Homo sapiens: one gene and its partners. The protein of the gene in region 3 purifies or fractionates together with the protein of the main gene of each other region. This does not show direct contact. Each region holds a gene or a part of one and is shown on either strand. Other genes may lie near its edges.

Region 1 (6,630 bases), on a different chromosome or scaffold from region 3:
ACTCAATGGTAATATACAGTTCTTTGACACTGCTTCTTCACTCCTTTGGAAATTGTTAAAAATACAACATTTAAGGAAATAAAATATATCCTACGTACCATAATGAATTGCTACAAAGGATGTTGCACATTGTTATATTGGACTTTAAATTGGCTTGCAAAATCATAAATTACAAGGCTTTAGTTTACTTGTTAAAAACTGAAGAGTACCACTGATTTCCTTGCACTTAGAAGTGAATTTATAGAAACCATTCACTTTCTCAAAGTAAAATTCAGAATGGGATGGGATTCTGTAGATTATATTTCCAAAACATAGTGTGATACAGTTATGGGACTTTTTGCAGGCTATAATGAGGGCTCCAATTCAATTTCATAATCTTAAGTAACAATCTATAAAAAAGGAAGGAAAAAATTTTAAAAGGTCATACCAAAACATTAAGTCAAGATACAAGGTACATATTTTCTAGCAGATTGTGCCATAAAAAAGAGAAAAAGAAAAAAATGTTAATTTAAATCCACTTTTTATTCTTTCACAGATTTTAACAATTATACACAACTTTTAACATAAAGGTAGTGAAATCTCAAGGATAAGGAGGCAATATATATGGCCTCTTCTATTCGTTATTCAGGATGGAAGGAAATTTTCAAAGTACAGTGTGTGAGATTCAACACTGGAAAAATACATATGAAACTTGTTTAATTGGCTCCACTTAGGACCAGACACAGCACAATAAATACAGAACTGCATCATCTTTTTAAAAGATCATTGTAATTTTAACACATTCTTACTAAAGAAATACATACTATCAGTGACCGATCTGAAACTCTGTAACAGGTGAAGGGAGACTTACGATGAATATCTGAGCATAGGTTCGCTAGCATCTTCACACTCATACATAAACATTCTTAAAGGGAATAAGAATGATTTCAAATTCAAAACAACAACAACAACAAAAAAACAAATTTGGTCAAACTTTCTTCATCATACCATTCATTGCTATCACAATCCTAGTTTGCTGGTAGGTTTAAGAAAGGAATAGAAAGTTTTTGAAATCCTTTTAATTTCTACCAGTCTTAGGGCCTCTTGAGTAGGCCACTTTGGAAGCAAACTGATTAAACAGCACCATCAAGTCCGTATCTCAACAAACCATTGCATAATTTCTGTCAATGTTCTCAAAGGTTAAAACAAGTTGTATAGAAGAATACCTTTCCTCAATAGCAGGCCACTGTAAAAACATGTAATCTGCAAGAATTTAAACAAAACTATCCTGAATTCTCTACTGATTGCTTCTTTCCTTAATAGACCAAGAGATAGGCATTACCTAAAAAATTAAATAATAATATACTGAGGCATAAAATAAATACTTTATTTATGCTATCACAATTTGGGTATTTGAAGATTGTTAGCCATGTTCACACACCCTTTCCTCTTCCCAAAGAGGAAGCAACGGTGCCAGCACTATTGGTCAGAAAGAGTTAATGGGAAACTGTTGCTCTCAGAGCTGTTCTGCAATATGCAGACACATAAATTATTATTTTAAACATATACTTAAAAGACGGATAAAATGATTTTTTTTCATGTGACCCAGATTCTGTTATCAGTAGATACAAAATTAATTTCATTCCTATTAGGATGGAAACTGGTATGCTGCTGTGGCCATAGATATTCTGAGAAACCTCTTAAGCCAGTGAACCAAAAACCATATGAAAGAAAGTAATACTTTCTATGATTGGTCAACTGGCTGTTCAAAAATTCAACAAGCAAACAAACATGCAAACATGTGACATATGTCATTATTTTGTAAAAACATAATGCCACTCTGGCCCCAGGAATCACTACAGCCCAGCTGGTCCTTAAAGGTGCAAACAGCCTTTAATTGCTACTAAACATCTTCTCTGGTATTTTACTGCCCATCACACTTGCCACATGATTCTCAGAAGCTTAGGCTTCCAAGATGTTTAAGGAAAATAAACAGGGTGTGATGTGGATCAAGTTTTCAGTGATTGTTTTAAGTGTCATTTTAAAAAGAACTTCCTAGTAATGAAGTATGTAATAGTCCTTGATATTAAATTTTTTCTAGTGAAATAAACTATGCTTTAATAAGACAATGTTGCTCTAAGTTTGACCGCCTGATTTTTTTTTTCTCTTTTTTAGAGGGTACTATTTCATATATTGTGTGAGCCCCACAAATGTCTATTTTAAAAAGAGTATAGTCCCTGGCCAGGCGCGGTGGCTCACGCCTGTAATCCCAGCAGTTTGGGAGGCCGAGGTGGGCGGATCACCTGAGGTCTGGAGTTCGAGACCAGCCTGACCAATATGGTGAAACCCCGTTTCTACTAAAAATACAAAATTAGCTGGGCATGGTGGAGCATGCCTGTAATCCCAGCTACTCGGGAGGCTGAGGCAGGAGAATCACTTGAACCCGGGAGGCGAAGGCTGCAGTGAGCCAAGATCACGCCATTGCACTCCAGCCTGGGCAACAAGAGGGACACTCCGTCCCCAAAAAAAAAATAATAAAAAAAATAAAAAATAAAAATAAAAAGAGTATAGTTCCCAATGGTTTCTCACAAACATTCCTGATTTATACTGGGGGAAGTGATGCATAATTGGAACATTAATCATTATGTTTTTGAAAATTAAATATTTCCTGCAAAGCAATTCCTTTGCAAAATGCTAAGCTGCCAATGAGCTTACCACAATAGAAATTGAGTCATTTCACAAAGTACCTGTTCAAAAGTTATAGAAACCTGGCCTTCCATTCCAAATTCACTGCAAAGAGAGTACATGCAGTAGTCCTGTTTACAATTTAATAGAGATGAGGAAAGGGTACACCTAGGACAAAGAGGGTCATCACCCTACATACAAGTTTACAGTAGTGTAACCAGAATGTATATTTACTATATTCACCACTTCAGATAAAGGAAGAGGGAGGCCCTTCACAACACTAGAACAAAGGAATGTTTGTTTTATATAAGACCTACCAAAAAAACAGGGAAACAAATAACACACATAGGCACTAGTCTCAAAGCTGCACAATAAAGAAGCAAAGGGTTTGAGATGAGAAATTCAGGAAAATATACACATAGGAGCTTGCTGAGGAAAAGGAAATCACAGTTGTAATCTTCAAGGCTTCTAATCTTCAAGGCTACGGAATGCATTCTGCATGTCTTCAAGAAGTTGTGCATAGTCGCTTTTGATCTTTGCCTCACCATCTTTCAGTGGATCCTGAAAGAAGACATTACAAATTCAACTCGCATTTGGAAAATAATTTTCATTACGTATGTTAAGTTACTTTTTTTTTTTTGGAGGCAGAGTCTTGCTCTGTCACCCAGGCTGGAGTGCAGTGGCACGATCTTGGCTCACTGCAACCTCCACCTCCTGGCTTCAAGTGATTCTCCTGCCTCAGCCTCCCAAGTAGTTGGGATTACAGGCGCCCACCATCACGCCCAGCTAATTTTTTTTTTCATATTTTTAGTAGAGACAGGTTTCACCATGTTGGCCAGGCTGGTCTTGAACTCCTGATCTCAAGTGATCCACTTGCCTCGGCCTCCCAAAGTGCTGGGATTACAGGCGTGAGCCACTGCACCTGGCCCAGGTTACTCGTATTTTATATATTTTGAGTACTAGGTTTAGTGAGGGACACTGGTAAACCACAGGCAGGAGGTAAAACTATACTCATTTTCCCTTTTTCTTAAGGATACAAATCCAACCAAACAGAAAGAAAACAAAATTTTAATTTTGCATTTTGCCTGATAACCACATTCAGTGACCAAAGCCTTTATCCTCAACAATGTGCACAATAGTGGGAAATTATGCCGCTTCATATATTAGATGAACATGACTTAATGCATGATAATTAGGAATTAATTTAATCAAAACAGAATTTGCTCAACATCTGGTATTATCACACTGGGATGGAAAAGTAAAATTTAGGCAACTTACTGAGTAATATGTATAAAAGATAATTTAGCTAGGCTTGGTGGCTCACGCCTGTAATCCCAGCACTTTGGGGGGCCGAGGCAGGCGAGTCACAAGGTCGGGAGATTGAGACCATCCTGGCCAACATGGTGAAACCCTGTCTCTACTAAAAATACAAAAAAATTAGCTGGGCATGGTGGCGTGCACCTGTAGTCCCAGCTACTTGGGAGGCTGAGGCAGGAGACTCGCTTGAACCCAGGAGGCGGAGGTTGCAGTGAGCTGAGATCGCGTCACTGCACTCCAGCCTAGTGACAGAGTGACACTCTGTCTCAGAAAAAAAAAAAAAAAAAAAAAGAGACAGACTTTAAAATGTTCCAGGTCTCTAACCCAATCATTCCACTTCTGGGACTCCATACTAAGAAAATGCACAAAACCAACTACACACAACTACATGGTTGTCCACACCAATAACTGGAAATTTTCTTTTCTTTTCTTTGTTTTTTTTTTTTTTCAGACAGAGTTTTGCTCTTGTTGTCCAGGCTGGAGTGCAATGGTGTGATCTCAGCTCACCGCAACCTCCACCTCCCGGGCTTAAGTGATTCTCCTGCCTCAGCCTCCTGAGTAGCTGGGATTACAGGCATGCACCATCACGCCCAGCTAATTCTGTATTTTTAGTAGAGACGGGGTTTCTCCATGTTGGTCAGGCTGGTCTAGAACTGACCTCAGGTGATCCACCCGCCTCGGCCTGCCAAAGTGCTGGGATTACAGACGTGAGCCAATGCGCCCGGCCAACAACTGGAAATTTTCTAAGTGTCTAAGAATAGAAAAATATTACTCTCCAGCCACAAAACAATGCTACAGAAGAGTAATGACATTAAAAAATACCTGTGATGTTAATTTGACACAATAAGCATGTAAATAGAAATCATCATTACTACAGGTATATTTCTTCTTCATCCTCTTTCTATGAATATATAGTTTTTTAAGACAATATTTGGATCAAGTTACATATGGAAGTTTTTTCACTCTGTGCCATAAGCATTTCTCCATGTCTTTGAATATTTTTGACAAAAATGGTAATGCCTTCATAATATCTATCTTATGGACACACCATAATGTACTGTTGGCTCTGTTCATTCTTGGGTGACATTTAAGAAATTTGGTTTAGCGTAGTGGCTCATGTCTGTAATCCCAGCGCTTTGGGAGGCTGAGGCAGGCAGATCACCTGAGGTCAGGAGTTCAAGACCAGCCTGGCCAACATAGAGAAACCCCCGTCTCTACTAAAAATACAAAAATTAGCTGGGTGTGGTGAATGCACCTGTAATCCCAGCTACTTGGGAGGCTGAGGCAGGAAGAACTGCTTGAACCTGGGAGGGGGAGGTTGCAGTGGGCCAGGATCGTGCCACTGTACTCCAGCCTGGACAACAGAGCAAGACTCCATCTCAAAAAAAAAAAAAGAAAAAAAAAGAAAAAGAATTTAATAAACGACCGTGTATATCCGTATCAAAATTCTGATTACTTCCTTTGTTTATTTATCTCAAGGTGAAATGACAAGACTAAAAAGGTGTAAATGTTTTTAAACTCTCAATGTAGTGCTTACCTATTTGTACAGGTTTACTTTCAATCTATAGTGTGAACACACACACAAAATATATATATAATTTAAAAATTTTTATATTACATATACACTCAGAGAATCATTCTCAGTAGGTGGTTAGTAAATATGCCTGGATGTCATGACAGAAATAAATACAATTCAACTGATCAAATATTTTAAAAACAATCTTATACATTTGAGTTCCTACTAATAATTTCATTTAATTATCTATTTTTATCTTGTGTACTTCCAAAAGAACAAGAGGCCACTTAAAAGTTAAAAAATGGCTGGATGCGGTGGCTCACGCCTGTAATCCCAGCACTTCGGGAGGCCGAGGCGGGTAGATCACATGAGGTCAGGAGTTCAAGACCAGCCTGGACAACATGGTGAAACCCCGTCTCTACTAAAAATACAAAAAATTAGCTGGGCGTGGTGGCAGGCACCTGTAATCCCAGCTACTTGGGAGGCTGAGGCAGGAGAATCGCTTGAACCCAGGAGGTGGAGGTTGCAGTGAGCCGAGATTGTGCCACTGTACTCCACCCTGGATGACAGAGCAAGACTGTCTCAAAAAAAAAAAAAGTTAAAAAATGACCTGCAGTACATGATATTTAAAAGAAGTAAACAGAGAAGATGTCATTTCAGAAGAACACATGTGCTAGAGGTTAATAGGCACTTGGAGTAAGGCAACTGTTGCTCAGCTATGAAGTAAGCTCTAATTTGCCTGGCAACTAAGACAAAAGGGAATACACATCAGCATTTATTTTAGACGTGACATACTAATTTTTTTTGTTTTTTGAGACTGGGTCTCACTGTGTTGCCCAGGCTGGAGAGTAGTGGTGGGATCATGGCACACTGCAGCAGCCTTGACCTCAGCCTCCCAGATAGCTGAGACTACAGGTGTGTGCCCCACACCTGGCTAATCTTTTGTATTTTTTGTAGAGACGGGATTTCGACATGTTGCCCAGGCTGGTCTTGAACTCCTGGGCTCAAGTCATCCTCCTGCCTGAGCCTTTGAAAGTGCTGGGATTACAGGCATGAGAACCACTATGCCTGGCTGATATACTAATTTTTATCATTAGAATTCCTATTTGAACATAACTTTGAGGTCTCTACTG
Region 2 (7,090 bases), on a different chromosome or scaffold from region 3:
ATTTCTAGTACATTCATCTGGCATCCAAATGGATCACCTAGCATACTCCACTTTGGAGATCTGAGGGCTCCATTCTTGACTCTTACTGCTTTCCTATTCTACATCTCTCCCAGGCTGAGCCCAACTACTCCTAAGGCTGCAAACACCAAAAACACACCCAATTCACCATCTTTCCACACACTTCTCCTGTATTCTATCTTGAAGGATGATACCACCTTCCTTCCACCCAGTGGCTGGAATCAGTCGTCTTTAAATCTTCCTCAGCAACACAGCTAATTAGCCACTGAATTTCATCTTTTTTTCTTATCTCACAAATCCTTTCCCCTCTATGTCCAGGGCACACTCTTCAGGCCCTCTCCAGGTTTGCTAGAATTGGGTGCCTTATGACCCTTGTCATGCCACTCTCTAATCCAGCCTTTCCCATAACTGCTTCAAAATACAGATCTGATCATTCACCCTTCTGCTTAAATGCCTTCTCTCACTGCCCAGAGACTCTGAGGCAAAACCCAAAGCATTAACACCCAAGAAACCTCATCAGCCTTATTTCTGGTATCTCCCCAACTTAATCCTGTACATTTCAGCCCCACCAAACTACTTGCCCCTTTGCTCTCACATCGCCATGCTTTTACACATGCTGTTCTGTTTCAAATACCTTTTCTTCCCACCCCAACTTTTCAACACATTAGCCCTGGGAGGCACCTCCCATGGGAAATTTTCCTCAGCCTCCCCAGTCTGGGCTAAGTGTCCTTCCCTCTAGGAACTCCACTATACTGTGCTATTATCGTCTACGAATGGTGGATGGAATCAATAATAATAAAAAAATGGATCCTATCTCCCTCTTCTACATGACATCACTTCAAATTCCATGTGTTCACCCTTGGCCTTTCTTCTCCAGGCTAAATATCTGAATTTTATCAAATACGCCTCATGATATGGTATTCAAAATCCTAGTTCCCTTCCTCTCTCTCTAGGTCCCTAGTTCTCCCTCTAGTTTGGCAACACTGTTTTAAAGGATTTCTATTTTTGTTTCTGCCTGGAATAGAGAAGTCAGAGCTCTTAAAGATGTTTTCCACTACATCACATTTAGTCATTGTGGAAAATAATAACTGAACCTCATCTGACAAGACTGAGCAATTCAGAAGCTGACAGGATCAGGTTCTTGTTCTGTATGAACTCGGCTATGCTAGTAAGGAAAACATGTTCAAACCATGTGCAGAAGCAATTATTTTATCTCAGACCCAAAACAAAAAAGCCTATACCTCACTGAATCAAAATAATATCAGTCAAAATATTAAAACATGGAATCTCAATAGATGTTCAGTTAAACCACAGGATCAAAGGGAATATTTTTAAAATTTCAAAAACTGAATTAAAATTAATTCCCTCAAAGTATCTCAGTAGATCAGAAAGACCTTTCCAGAGCCAGAAACAGAAGAAAGAAACAAAGAACTCGAAAACGTTTGGGGCATGGATACAACGTAACTATCATTAACACACAAAACCCCCGCACCTCTAGGGACAGAGATCTGCAGATTTCAAGAGCATACTGGTGCAGAATTAAATCGCCATTCCACAAGCAGGACCTCCCAACACCTCACATAGGTTTTTGGTTTGTTTGTATGTTTGTTTTTGCTTCTGAGACAAGGTCTGGCTCTATCGCCCAGGCTGGAGTGCAATGGCGCGATCTCGGCTCACTGCAACCTCCGCCTCCCGGGCTCAAGCGATTCTCGTACCTCAGCCTCCTGAGTAGCTGGGATTACAGGTGTGCCCCAACACACCCGGCTAATTTTTATATTTGCAGTAGAGATGGCGTTTTGCCTTGTTGGCCAGGCTGGTCTCAAACTCCTGACCTCAGGTGATCTGCCTGCTTCGGCCTCCCAAAGTGCCGGGATTACAGGCGTGAACCACCGCGCCCGGCCTCCCATAGGTTTTAAACTGACACACTGAGATCAGAGCACCCATTCCTCCAAGCCGTTCTCAACTTGGCCTCTTGTTCACTACTGTCTGTGCCTCCAGTCTCAGTCCCCATCACTCCCACATTCTCACACAGTAATAGCGTTACTTGTGCAACACAACATATATAATGGAAAAGGCCGATGCGCTGGCACCACCTCATCTGAAATCAAATCCAGCACCCAACCTGTTTAGTGTTGGGTAATTTATTTAGGTTGATCACCCTGCAAAACAAAGATGATGCCCTCTAAGGACTGCTGTCAAATGAAATACATTACCACATGATATGCAGTAAGAGGCCACGTATTAGCTGATTTCTTCACCTCTTGCTGAATGCTTAGGAATCTAGGTTCTACTCAGAAAGCTACCATTTATTGACATGTGACCCTAAAAATGCGACTCACATCCTGTTTCCAAATCCTTAAAATTTGGAACTCTGACAAACTATTGAGAGGTGCTTTGTATTCGCCTTAAGAAATATAAGTCATATAAAAATAATGACTCCATCTCAACTTTTGCATCCGGAAATATACATAAGGGAAGGGAGGGGCAGGGATTTCAGCAATTACTGATGACAACCACTAGAAATGAAGGCACCATACAAATGCAAAAACATCGTGGCAGCCAGTGGCAGCTAAAAAGTCTGCCTTCTCTTCTTCGCAGCGGGCTGCGACTCAATCCCAGTTCACTGAGAAATGCATCTCCGTACTCTGAAGGGCCTTTTCAGGCGCAAGAAGCCGGCCGGACGCGCCGCCCTCAAAGTGGAGGGTGGAGGCAGGCTCAGGGGCCCCCTACGCAGCCCAGCCCCGGCCCCGGCGGCCCGTGAGGCCGCGCCGCCACGGCCGATCCAGAGAAGATGCTGACGGGGACGCGGCTGAGGCGAGGCCGCCGCTGACGGACCGCACTGCGGCACCTGCCTCGCAGCTACTCGCCCGCGGCCGCCCCCGACCCCCAAGCCCCGCGGCGCAGGACCTCCCCAGGCACGTCCTGCCGGCCCCCGGCTCCTCACCCGCCACCAACGCCAGGAGCACGACAAACACAGCCATGGTGCCGCGGCGGCCGCAGCACTGCGGGGCGACACGGAACGGGCCGGCGGGACACGGGCGACAGCCGCAGCGTGAGGAGGTGACGCGCTCGGACTCGTCCAGGCTCCCGGGTCCCGTCCCTTCGTCGCTTCCGCTGGGACAGCTGCCGCTTTCTCCACCAATCACCAGTTACGCCGCGGCCTACGGAAGGGACGTAACCTGGGAAGCGACAGCCTGATAGGCGGGACTTAAAGTAACGGATGGAGAGTTCTACCAATGGTAGGCAGCGATTGAAAAGTCGGGCAGTCCCGCCCCCCGGTCGGTGATGACGGGTCAAGAGGTGGAGCGTAGGGCGGGTAGTCGGAATGGGTGATGGAGCTAGTCGAGGGGTCCCGGAGCCCACGGGGTGAGGGTGCCTCCCGAGTGCAGATCTTTCTGCCAGTCTCGAGCGACGGTCTCCAACCAGGGTGTCTGTCTTTCCTGGTCGTGTGCCTCCGCCCGGCTACGGACGCCAGCTGTGAAAGGCGGGGCTGGTTGGGGTTTCGCTCTAACAAGTATACAGACGCCGAGCACCTACTGGGAAGAAGCCAGGCGCAACGGGGAACCCCTGCCTTCCACATAGTGGTGCCAGATAAAATACAGGGCGCCCAGTTAAATTTGAATTTCATGTAAACAACGATTATTTGTTATTATGTCGCAATTAATTTATGGGACATACTTGTATTAAAAGAAGTATTACTGGTTATCTGAAATTCAAATATAACTGGGTATCCTATATTTTGATTCGCTAAGTCTGGCAACTCTACCTCCAAAGACTTTCCAATCTACAAGGAGTCATGGGACAGAAAGTTAATTAATTACTTAATTTGTCCATTCACTCAGTTTCCAATCTGGGCAAGGTGTTCTATGAGGATGTATGAAGGCTAGACATAGTAATTAGACCAGGCTCCTCCCCTCCCGCAGTTCATAGTCTTTTGCCTATGATGTGAGGCAAGAAGGGACACACTATAGCGTCTGTAGGTAGAAAATGACGCCCCAGCTGATGACCTTGAAAGGTGGAAATGATTTCATATCCAAGGATAGGAGATGGGGAGATTGTTCCAGTGAAAACTGTAGTTAAGGTGGGGAGAAAGCCCCGTCAGGTTAAGCATCAGTAATCAAATAAGAGATTATATGAGAGAGGAGGCACAGAGCTAAAACTTTCAGTTAGGCACATTTATTGAGGATTTTAAATTGTACATAAGAGACCTACACTAAGCCATTGAAGGCGTTTGAGCATGATTTACTGCACAAATGTAAGACAGACTTATTGGCGGGGGGGAGGGGGGGAATGCCTTACTGTTTCTTCAGTTTCCAGTCCCATTTTCTTCTTGGAGTTTCCTGAGGATGAAAAAATGAGAGCGAGTTAAAAACAGTGACCCCAGGAGTTCCCCAGGTAGCAGACCCACCCTAGGAAAACCTTGCCCAACTGAAAACTGAATCAGAAAGACACTCTCGAGGCCAGGTGTGGTGGCTCACACCTGTAATCCCAGCGCTTTGAGAGGCCGAGGTGGGAAGATCCTTTGACACCAGGAGTTGAAAACCAGCCTGGATAACATAGTGAGGCCCTGTCTTTTTATTATTAGAAAATAAAGAAAGCAAAAAAAGAGAAACACTCACTAAATAGTTTGAACTTTCTAGAACACACTATGCTTACCAAAGCCACTCTCAAATTTAGGGAACAGAGTCGATTTCCTCACCTAACGTCAAGAAACAGGAAACTCTCAAACTTGCTTTTCCTCTAGAGGAGAATTTGTACAAATGGGACTTTAGAGAACTCTGAAAGGGAGAAGAGAGATTTTTCCATCAGGCATGTGAAATTATTAGAACCAAAATGTCTAAAGCACCCCTCCAAAACATCCACTCTAATGTGACTGACTCGAAAAAAATTAATCACTTTTTTTGTTGTTGTTGAGACGAAGTTTCCCTCTTGTTGCCCAGGCTGGAGTGCAGTGGTGCGATCTCAGCTCACTGCAACCTCCAACTCCCGAGTTCAAGCAATTCTCCTGCCTCAGCTTCCCAAGTAGTTGGGATTACAGGCGCCAACCACCACGCCCGGCTAATTTTTGTATTTTTAGTAGAGACGGGGTTTCACCATGTTGGCCAGGCTGGTCTCGAACTCCTGACCTCAGGCGATCCACCCACTAAAGCCTCCCAAAGTGCTGAGATTACAGGCGTGAGCCACTGCTCCCGGCGGAAAAAAATTAATCATTTTTAAAAATTCATTTTTAAGCATGATAAATTCACAATCTTTTCACACCAACTAAAATTCTTTGTCCATCTCCCTGCATGTCTTAGAACAGGTTTTGAATCACAGGCCCTGCAAGAACTTATCTAAACCTTATTTAGGGACATAATCAGCTAAAAGTGGAGCAGACCTCCTGCCATTTCATCCAGCTTAAGGAAACAGGGAAAGGAGTGAATGTTTCTGTTCTTAAGACTTCTAGTACATTCTTATTTCTTTGAATTTGAGGAAGATGAAAAAATTTGTAAATAGACTGGAATATAAAATAAGTCCCCACCCCCCCATTCCCCCAGAAAACCTCACAATCTTTCACAATCCATTTATGTCTTGAGAAATAACATCCCCTTTTGAGCTAACAGCGAATAGTGTATTCTTTACACCTAAGGGCCCTTTTCACCTGAGGTTGCAAAGGGGCATTGTTGTTCTCTACAACCTTGGAATTTAGCAAGATAAACATTGTCGGAAGCCCTCTCCTTGTTTCATAGATTGAGAGATTGAAGCCTAGGGAAGGGCATATGTACTCAAGGTCATATTCTGAATCGTCAGCAGTTCTGCTTCGTGAATGCAGCCCTGCTGATTCAATCTTTAGCGCTCAGTAAACAACTGGTGATGTGCGGTTAACTTTTCCACTGAAGCATTTAGAGATGGATATGTGTGTAGCAGGGTAATACAATATTTGAAGTTATGACCCCATTTGTTAGCCTAAAAGAAGCCTTTCTCCACCCTCCCCACAGGCCAAATAGGCAAGACTGCAGCCATCCGTTGCCCTGAGGGGAGGACTCTCAGGAGAACCTGAAAACAAATGTCAAATTCTTGGCTCTTGAGTTTCAAAACTAGAGGTCCAGATGCAAGATTTGAAAGAATACATAATTCCATTTGCTTCCTTAAGTCTCGCCCTCGTCCCCCAATTAAGTCCAGCAGTGAGTTCTGAGTGATCCCGGAGTGAGCGCGATAACATGAGCTGATCCCTGCAAATGAGACATCCCATCCAGGAGCCCTGTGGAGGCGAAGATCATGCCCCTCTCCCAGACCATGCAGTTAAAATTAAGAATTTATGTTCTTCAAAAGGTACTATATACACTATGGAAAGGTGTGGGGGAGGGGAGAGCAGCTTTGCAGTGCAAAAACCCAACAAATACTATCTAGGCGATGTGATCAAGGTCAACACCAACAGTGATCGGTCATGTTGACAGTGTGTGCCCTTGATGTGATACAATGATAATGGCAGGCACTTCACCTCTATGATCTTCCTCCCCCATACCCATAACCCCAGTGTAATCATGAGAAAAACATCAGATAAATGCCAATAGAGGGGCATTCTACAAAATATCTGACTGCTGCTCCTCAGAAGTCATCAAAAACAAGGAAAGTCTGGGCTGGGCGCGGTGGCTCACACCTGTAATCCCAGCAGTTTGGGAGGCCTAGGCGAGTGGATCACTTGAGGTCAGGAGTTCAAGACCAGCCTAGTCAACATGGTGAAACCCCATCACTACCAAAAAATACAAAAATTAGCCAGGTATGGTGGTACGTGCCTGTAGTCCTAGCTACTCGGGAGGCCAAGGCGGGAGAATCGCTTGAACCTGGGAGGCGGAGGTTGCAGTGAGTCAAGCTTGTGCCACTGCAATTTAGCCTGGGCGACAAAGTGAGACCCTGTTTCAAAAGAAAAAAAAATTAGCCAGGCATGGTAGCGCATACCTGTAGTCCCAGCTACTGGGGAGGCTGAGACAGGAGGATCACTTGAACCCAGGAGGTTGAGACTGCAGTAAGTCAAGATCTCATCATTGCACTCCAGCCTGGGTGACAGAGGGCAACGCTATCTCCAAAAAAA
Region 3 (7,651 bases):
GTCCTTTCCAGCACCCAACCCATCTGGAGAGAAGCAAGAATATGACTTTAATTTAACATCAACAATGACACTGTGTAACAGCACAGGGAAGAGGTAGTGGAGGGAGATGGTCAGGCTTCCTGTTCCTTAACCAGCAGAGCCCCAGCAACCTAGAAGCGCCTCACCTAGCCTCTTAATGGAGTGGGAAGGAGCAGGGAATTGGAAATCAGAGGCTCAAAAAGTAAAGAAGGCTGATGGCAAGCCTGGGGAGAGGCCTGGAAACGAGGGAAGGGCTGAGGGCTATGAGGAGTCCCCTAGCGCAGGTCTTCGGCAGTGAACATGCCCCTGGCCCTGCGCAGGATGGAGTCCTTGGCGGCGTCATATGGGTGCTCCTTGGAGGGGATCTCCAGGACAGCGGGGATGGACTGCTGGTGGGCGTCCAGGGCATGCCGCACCATCTCTGCGATGTACTGGTTGATGAGGATGATGCCAATGTCATCCCGGTTTAGAAATTGCCTGTGGGGAGAGATGAGAAGGGAGTCCAGGACAGCTCTGGGGGCTGCCGTCTCTCCTACCCAGGCAGCCCTCTCCGAGTTGTTGGGCTGGGCTGTGGAGGGGAATGAGCATGACCCAGAGGGCACAGAGGACAAGGGGAAAGGCTGCCACGCTCAACCCTCTGTCAACCCTACCTAGAATCAATTTCATCCCAAAGCGGAGGGTCACGCTGATTAGGGTTGGCTTCTACAACACTGCCCGGAAGGCTTCCAAGTGAACTGGTAATGAAGATTGATTAGGGTGCACACTGGTGTATTCAATATGCAGTGATGTGTCAGAAAGGGGAAGGATAAGATTATATGTATGCAGATCCCTTTTTATGTGCAGATACTGAAGGCCAGCTGTGATGGCTCACGCCTGTAATCCCAGCACTTTGGGAGGCCGAGGCAGGTGGATTGCTTGAACCCAGGAGTTTGAGACCAGAATGGGCCACATAGTGAGACCCCCATCTCCCTCTCTCTCTCTCTCTCTCTCTATCTATATATACACACACAAAAAAATGGCTGGATGTGGCGGATCTATCTATCTATCTATATATATACACACAAAAAAAAAATGGCTGGATGTGGCGGCATGTGCCAGCTACTTGGGAAGCTGTAGTCCTAGCTATTTAGGAAGCTGAGGTGGGAGAATCACTTGAGCCTGGGAAGTCGAGGCCGCAGTGAGCTGCGATCACGCCACTGCAATCCAGCCTGGGTGACAGGAGTGAGACCCTGTCTCAGAAAAAAAAAAAAAAAAAGACACATTAACTTTTAAAAAGAAAACAAATTATTTAAAAATAGGGCTGATGAGACCACTGAAGGCCTCAAGGTCTATCCTGATGAGGGTGGTGGAGGGGTCAGAGGGAAAGTTTGGCATGAACTAAGATCACAAGCTAGGAAGAGGACACCTTGATGAAGGAATCACACTTTCTGCACAAAAAGAACCTGGCCTTGTGCTCCTTCTCTCCTGTGGTCACCCACCCATTCATTTGTTTATTTTATTTTTATTTTTTTGAGACAGGGTCTCCCTCTGTCACCCAGGCTGGAGTGCAGTGGTGGATCTCGGCTCACTGCAGTCTCCACCTCCCAGGTTCAAACAATTCTCCTTCCTCAGCCTCCTGATTTCTTGGGATTACAGGCACCCGCCACCACGCCTGGCTAATTTTTGTATTTTTAGTAGAAATGGGGTTTCACCATATTGGTCAGGCTAGTCTCAAACTCCCGAGCTCAGGTGATCCACCCGCCTCGGCCTCCAAAACTGTTGGGATTACAGGCGTGAGCCACTGCACCCAGACTCATTCGTTTATTTACTGATTAAAAATTACTTACTGAGCACCCACCCCCTGCCAGTCACTGGGTTAGATTTGATCTCTGAGGTCCCTTTTGGTTGGAAACATAAAAAATTCTTGAAGTAAAATTTGTCCTTCTCCCATGATAACTTGGGTCACTTTACCAGACAGCTTAGAGAATGGCAGATAACAGCCTCCCAGGTCAGGGACTACCTAATACACCAGGCAGCAGGAACCAGTCTCAGCCAGCAGCCCTGGGCTGGACTGTTTGGGGGAAACAGGTGAGTGGTTTATTCCTGAGACTTGGTACAGGGGCCCTGGAGAAGGGGTGAGGAATAAAATAGGAGGCTGGTATCCTTAATTCCAGTCACCAGGACCCCTGGTGGATTAAAAGCATGCCTGCACCCACACTCTGACCTAAGGCAGGCAGTGAGGGCTTGAGTGCAAGGTCTTAGCAGAAGGCTCTCACAGTCCCGACATTTCTGCCTACTGTGCTCAAGACTACAAGGAAATTCCGAGGCCGCCTGAGGAGACCTGCCAAGAGTGTGTACCTGGCTTACCGGAGGCAGAAAGGGTTGAGATTGGGTTCAAATTCTAGCTCTGCCTCTGCCGACTCGTAACTTTAGTGTGTGCCTTACCCTCTCCGAGCTTTAGTTTTCTCACCTGTGAGTAGGACAAAAATCATCCCTGCCTTACGGGACGATGGTGAGCCTCTAAAGGAGGAGAAAGCAGAACAAAGTCCAAGCCCACTGTCTAGGCTGTCACGAGCTCTGTTCCCCTTCTTTCATGACACACGATCATGTGAGGTGGGGGGGCTCGTGGACCTGATACAGCTTCTGTCCCACCGAGCCCCAAACGGGGACTTGGGGCGCGGAGGCCTCCGCTCCGGAAGGGCGGAAGGACTTTCAGGATCGTCCCCTCACCCCCGTCCGGGCAGCCTCCAGCCTCGCCCCGCACTCCACCGAGCAGCAGAAGGGCCCGTTCAGGCCTCGCGCGGTACCGTACCGGAAAGTGTCTTCGATCTCATTGATGGTTGTATCCTTCTCCACCACCAGGAAATTGGGATGGCGGTTCTTGTTAAGCTCCCCTATGCCGCCCAGCAGGAAACCAGTCACCGTGTCCTCGTCTCCGATCACTGCGATGAGCTTACCCCTCCCCGCCATCCCTGCAGCCGGGCAGAGCTCACCCTAGAGCACCAGAAGCCACTGAAACCCCGCCTCCGCCGTACGGCGCCCCGTCGGCCTCAACCCCCACCCTTCGAGCATGCGCAGTCCTCCCAGCCGCATTCCGGGACATGCGCATTAACAGCAACACGGCCTCCATGTGAATACGCCTGCGCCGTAAAGACAGGCCCGAACCAGGGGACTACGATTCCCAGAAGACCGCGCGGCACCACGTCCTTCGCGGGCATTCATTCGTTCATTCACTCGTTCCTTGGTTCATTCGTTCAACAAGCGCTTTGGACCTGACGCTGTTAGACGCCGAGACCCCAGAGAAGAGACGCAGTTACTCATCTCAAGGGCAGGGTCTGGGTCTTTATCGTGTATGTATGTGTGTAACTATGACACATAGTTAACAAGTAACACACGTTTGTTCAGTTAAAGGAATGCAAAAGTTAATGATGATACTGCCTAGTGAGGTGGAAAGTCAAGGGAACAGGCGACTACAAAGCTGTGTGTTAATGGTTAGAATGTGAAAAGTATATGGAAGCACACATCCATGGTAACTAACCCATGGAGAGAGGGGGCGTCCAAAGAACCCTTCCCCAAGAAGCTTGCTTCAGATCTAAGCTGAGACCTGAAGGACCTGCAGGATGAAGGGGATAGAAGTGAGGACAAGACGGTGTTCTAGGCAGAGGAACAGCATGTGCAAAGGCGTACTGACTAGAGAGCGTAGGGCCTTCAAGGAAAGTTAAATAATTGGTAAGGCCAGGCATGGTGGCTCACGCCACACCTGTAATCCCAGCACTTTGGGAGGCTGAGGCAGGTGGATCACCTGAGGTCAGGAGTTTGAGACCAGCCTGGCCAACATGGCGAAAACCCGTCTCTACTAAAAACACAAAAAATTAGCCGGGCGTGGTTGTGGGCGCCTGTAGTCCCAGCTACTCGAGAGGCTGAGGCAGGAGAATTGCTTCAACCCGGGAAGCGGAGGTTGCAGTGAGCCGAGATTGTGCCATTGCACTCCAGCCTGGGTGACAGAGCGAGACTCTGTCTCAAAAAAAAAAAAAAAAAAAAAAAAAAAAAATTAGCCAGGCGTGGTGGTGCACACTTATAGTTCCAGGTACTCGAGAAGCTGAGGCAGCAGGGCTTACTCAGGAGTTCAAGGTTACAGTGAGCTATGATCACGGCACTGCACTTAAACCTGAGCAGCAGAGCGAGACCCTGTCTAAAAAAAAAAAAAAAGGATCTGCAGGCTGGGCGCGGTGGCTCACGCCTGTAATCCCAGCACTTTGGGAGGCTGAGGCGGGTAGATCACCTGAAGTCAGGAGTTTGAGACCAGTCTGGCCAACATGGTGAAATCCCATCTCCACTAAAAATACAAAAAAAATTAGCCCAGTGAGGTGGTGTGTGCCTGTAGTCCCAGCTACTCGGGAGGCTGAGGCAGGACAATTGCTTGAACCCGGGCAAGGGAGGTTGCAGTGAGCTGAGATGGCGCCACTGCACTCCAGCCTAGGTGACAGAGTGAGACTCTGTCTAAAAAAAAAAAAAAAAAAAAAAAAAGATCTGGAAGTTATCCTGAGGACAGTTATCCTGAAGCTGCTGAGGGATTTCAAGTAAGAGAGTGCTATCGCCAAACTTACGTTTTAGAGCTGTCACTCACTGTTGACTGTGCTGTGTGCAGAGGCGAAACTGAGGGAGGAGAAACCAAATTGGGAGGCCACTGTGAGAGATAATGGTGGCCAGGACTCAGGTGGTGATAATGGGAAACGCAGAGAAGTAGGTAGAGCCGAGAGATATTTAGATATTTAGGACAAAACTGGTTTCAGAGTGGATGTGTTTGGGGAGTGAGGTAGAGAGAGAGACCTGGGTGATTTCCAGGTTTCTGGCCTGTGCAGCACATGGATGGGAGTAACATTGCCAAGAAAGTGACCTCTGTAAGATGAGCAGGCTGAAGGGGAAGGAGCCACTCTTTCCTCCTCCCTTTTAACAAATCAGCACTCCCGGTGTCTGGCATGGGGTTTGTGAGTTTGGAGTGCTTGAGACGTGCCCGTGGTCTGGTCTAGCGATTGTATGTGTGATAAGCTTGGGATTCGGGCACACCTGGGTTTCAATCTGTGCCCCACTACTTAAAGGTACGGTTTCAGACTCATCACTGAAATTCCCAGGGCCTTGGTTTCTTCAGATGGTAGTAGCCCCACCTCATAGGGCTGTTATGAGGATTAATGAGGAAGGGCCTGTAAGGCTCAGCACCCAGGGCCACACTGTGGCTGGCTGGAAGCAGGCAGGCTGGAGGTCTGTGAGCTTATCAGCCACACACAGGTGGAGGCAGCCGAAGCTGAGGGGGAAATTAGCACATCTAGGGGTGAGGGTGAGGGTGAGGGGGGCAGAGAGTGAGGATGGGTGTGTGGGAGGGTGTGAGGGAAGAGGGAGGAAGCACAGAGCCTGGTGAGAGAGGTGGGGAGGTCAGGGATTAGGAGTTGGGGACTCGTGGGTTTTTCTGCCAAGCCCACCACCATGTGCTGAAATGCCCAGGTGGGTCTAGATTGTGGGATCAGTTGAATGAAAGACTTCTTTTCCCTGCTGCAGCTACTCAGCTGCTCATTTATTCATTCATACCCATTCACTCACTCATTCACACCCAGGGCCAGGGAGCTCCATCTGGTGGGGAGCCGTGGATACATGGCCACAGCTCAGGGTCGTAACTGCAACTAGAGATGTGTCCCAGGGCAGTTTGGGAGCTGGGGGCACTGATCCAGGAGGGGTAGGGAGGGGTCCAGGAAAACTTCCTGTTGGCCAGGAAGATGAAGAGGGTGGGGAGGCAAAGGTGTTTCCGGGCAAGGGCCCAAATTACAGCATGGGTGCCCAGAGGTAATGAAGGGGGGTTGGAGGTGGAGGGCACAATGGAGAGTGGGCCTGCTGCCCAACTCATATGGCTGGGGAGGCTGCTGTCTGAACCTGGGTGGCCCTGGAGACCTTGTCAGGAAGAGGAGACTTTACTCTGGAGCAGGAGGGAGTCACAGATGGCCCTAAACCAGAGAGGGGCATATACTATCTTTAAAGTGACCCCCCCGCCAAGCTGCAGCATGGAGGGGAGGTTGGAGGGAGCTGGCCAGGGCAGGGCTGTTGCAGGAGTTCAGGAGGGAGGCCCTGTGCAAGCTTAGTGCTGGAAAGGGGCATGAAACAGGCCAAGTTGATTCAGGAACTGACTAGGGGGAAGGTGCTGAGTCTGCAGGTGGTTCTGCCTGCCTGCTGGTTGAGGAATATTCCTGTTTGAGTCAGTGCTCACTGTTTTAAAGTCTTAATTTGAAAAACATCCTTGAGGTCAAGCTGAACTGAAACTGGCCTCCCAGGGGTCCTGGGACAGTACTGTAGAACACAGTATCCACACCCTGTACTGTCCACGAACCCTCCCGCTGGGACCCCTTCCCACATCCCCGAGCCCCCACCCCCGGTTCTTTCAAGCACTCTGCCAACATCCCAGACCTCACTTCTGCCCCAGGACCTTTCCCTCGACTGGGTCAATCTTCCAGGGAACAGCCAGGCCGCCTCTGCCTCCCCAGGGCCCGGTTTTTCGTGTGGCAGGCCAGAGGGCAGCCAGCCACACAGAGCACACCCCCAAGGAACAGCCAACCCTCTGCGACAGCCGCACTTTATTTGGAGTTTTCCACCTAAGCAGCTCCCAGCTGAGCTGCATGACATGTGCAAAAGTCCCCTAGAAAGCTGGGCCTCGCAGTGTGTAAAAAAGGCCCCCCATGGGGCAGAGCCGTGCAACCATTTTAAAAAAAGAGACAGTGAGAGAGAAATCAGGCCCCCTGGGAGCCTGGCTTGGGTGGAGTGCACATCGCTCAGGCCGGTCCATGTGCCAGGCCACTCCTGCTGGTTCGGGGGCTGTTTTCTTCTCTGATTGTGCTTTCCTTTCCAAGTCCTTAAAACTCTGGGGTTGTAGCCACCAGAGAGACCAGACCAAGTCCTCGGGGTCAGGAGGGTATCTGGCCGGCGGTGCAGTTTGAGGGTGACCTCACACACAGACACCCACAACACAATGCTCCCCCACTGCTCAGCCCCGCCAGAAACTCAGGGCTTCCCTGGCCTCGCAGCCCTCGCCAGCCCCTTGTGTCCCAGCCTCTGCCCCTGAGCCTGGCCCCAGTCGGCCCTCATGTCACATTCCCAGGGAGGGACACTGTCCTGACACAGACAAGGTCCTCCAACCCCTGGGGCGCGGTGGGGTGGGGAGGCTGGGCCTTCACTTCACCCCCAAGGCAGGTGTTTGTAGTGTCTGATTCTGTGCGTGTCTGGGTGTGGCACATTTGTGTGTGTGTGTGTGTGTGTGTAATGTGTGTGTGGCTGGAGGTGGGGGCTGAGGCTGGGGAGGCACTTTTGGGATTCAAGGGACCTTGACTTTGAAGGGGCTTCCAGGGACACTTTCGTCACCCCACTTGACAATGAGGATGTAGTCCCCTTTCTCCTTGACAGTGTAGGTGACATTGTACACCCGGTTCCCCATGTGCTTCACGTACACCTCCTCACAGGGGGTCTTGGGGCCGTGCACGCCCACCATCATCATGTTGGTGCCTGGAGAGGGAGGCAGAGGGACAGGCTCACACCAGGGAGTCCCCTACTGTGACCCACACCCTGCTCCCTGACGGCTTCTTGCTCACACCCCGGGAGACGCCCTCCCCCCGCCACC

The links.
Region 1: the proteins of ATP6V1F (region 3) and ATP6V1A fractionate together in Homo sapiens (co-fractionation; 3 studies listed by BioGRID and IntAct, with this or other methods). This does not show direct contact.
Region 2: the proteins of ATP6V1F (region 3) and ATP6AP2 purify together in Homo sapiens (affinity purification with mass spectrometry; 5 studies listed by BioGRID and IntAct, with this or other methods). This does not show direct contact.

The regions. Positions count from the first base shown.
Region 1 is NC_000003.12:113,805,930-113,812,559, reverse strand, and holds the end of ATP6V1A (V-type proton ATPase catalytic subunit A), read right to left. Parts: intron 3,226-6,630; coding exon 3,133-3,225; 3' UTR 504-3,132; downstream 1-503. UniProt on the Homo sapiens protein: Catalytic subunit of the V1 complex of vacuolar(H+)-ATPase (V-ATPase), a multisubunit enzyme composed of a peripheral complex (V1) that hydrolyzes ATP and a membrane integral complex (V0) that translocates protons.
Region 2 is NC_000023.11:40,576,975-40,584,064, reverse strand, and holds the start of ATP6AP2 (renin receptor precursor), read right to left. Parts: upstream 3,096-7,090; 5' UTR 3,000-3,095; coding exon 2,963-2,999; intron 1-2,962. UniProt on the Homo sapiens protein: Multifunctional protein which functions as a renin, prorenin cellular receptor and is involved in the assembly of the lysosomal proton-transporting V-type ATPase (V-ATPase) and the acidification of the endo-lysosomal system.
Region 3 is NC_000007.14:128,858,221-128,865,871, reverse strand, and holds ATP6V1F (V-type proton ATPase subunit F), read right to left. Parts: upstream 3,017-7,651; 5' UTR 2,968-3,016; coding exon 2,810-2,967; intron 753-2,809; coding exon of another isoform or gene 669-752; intron 496-668; coding exon 294-495; 3' UTR 25-293; downstream 1-24. Other genes in the region: FLNC (filamin-C), read right to left, coding at 7,349-7,536. UniProt on the Homo sapiens protein: Subunit of the V1 complex of vacuolar(H+)-ATPase (V-ATPase), a multisubunit enzyme composed of a peripheral complex (V1) that hydrolyzes ATP and a membrane integral complex (V0) that translocates protons.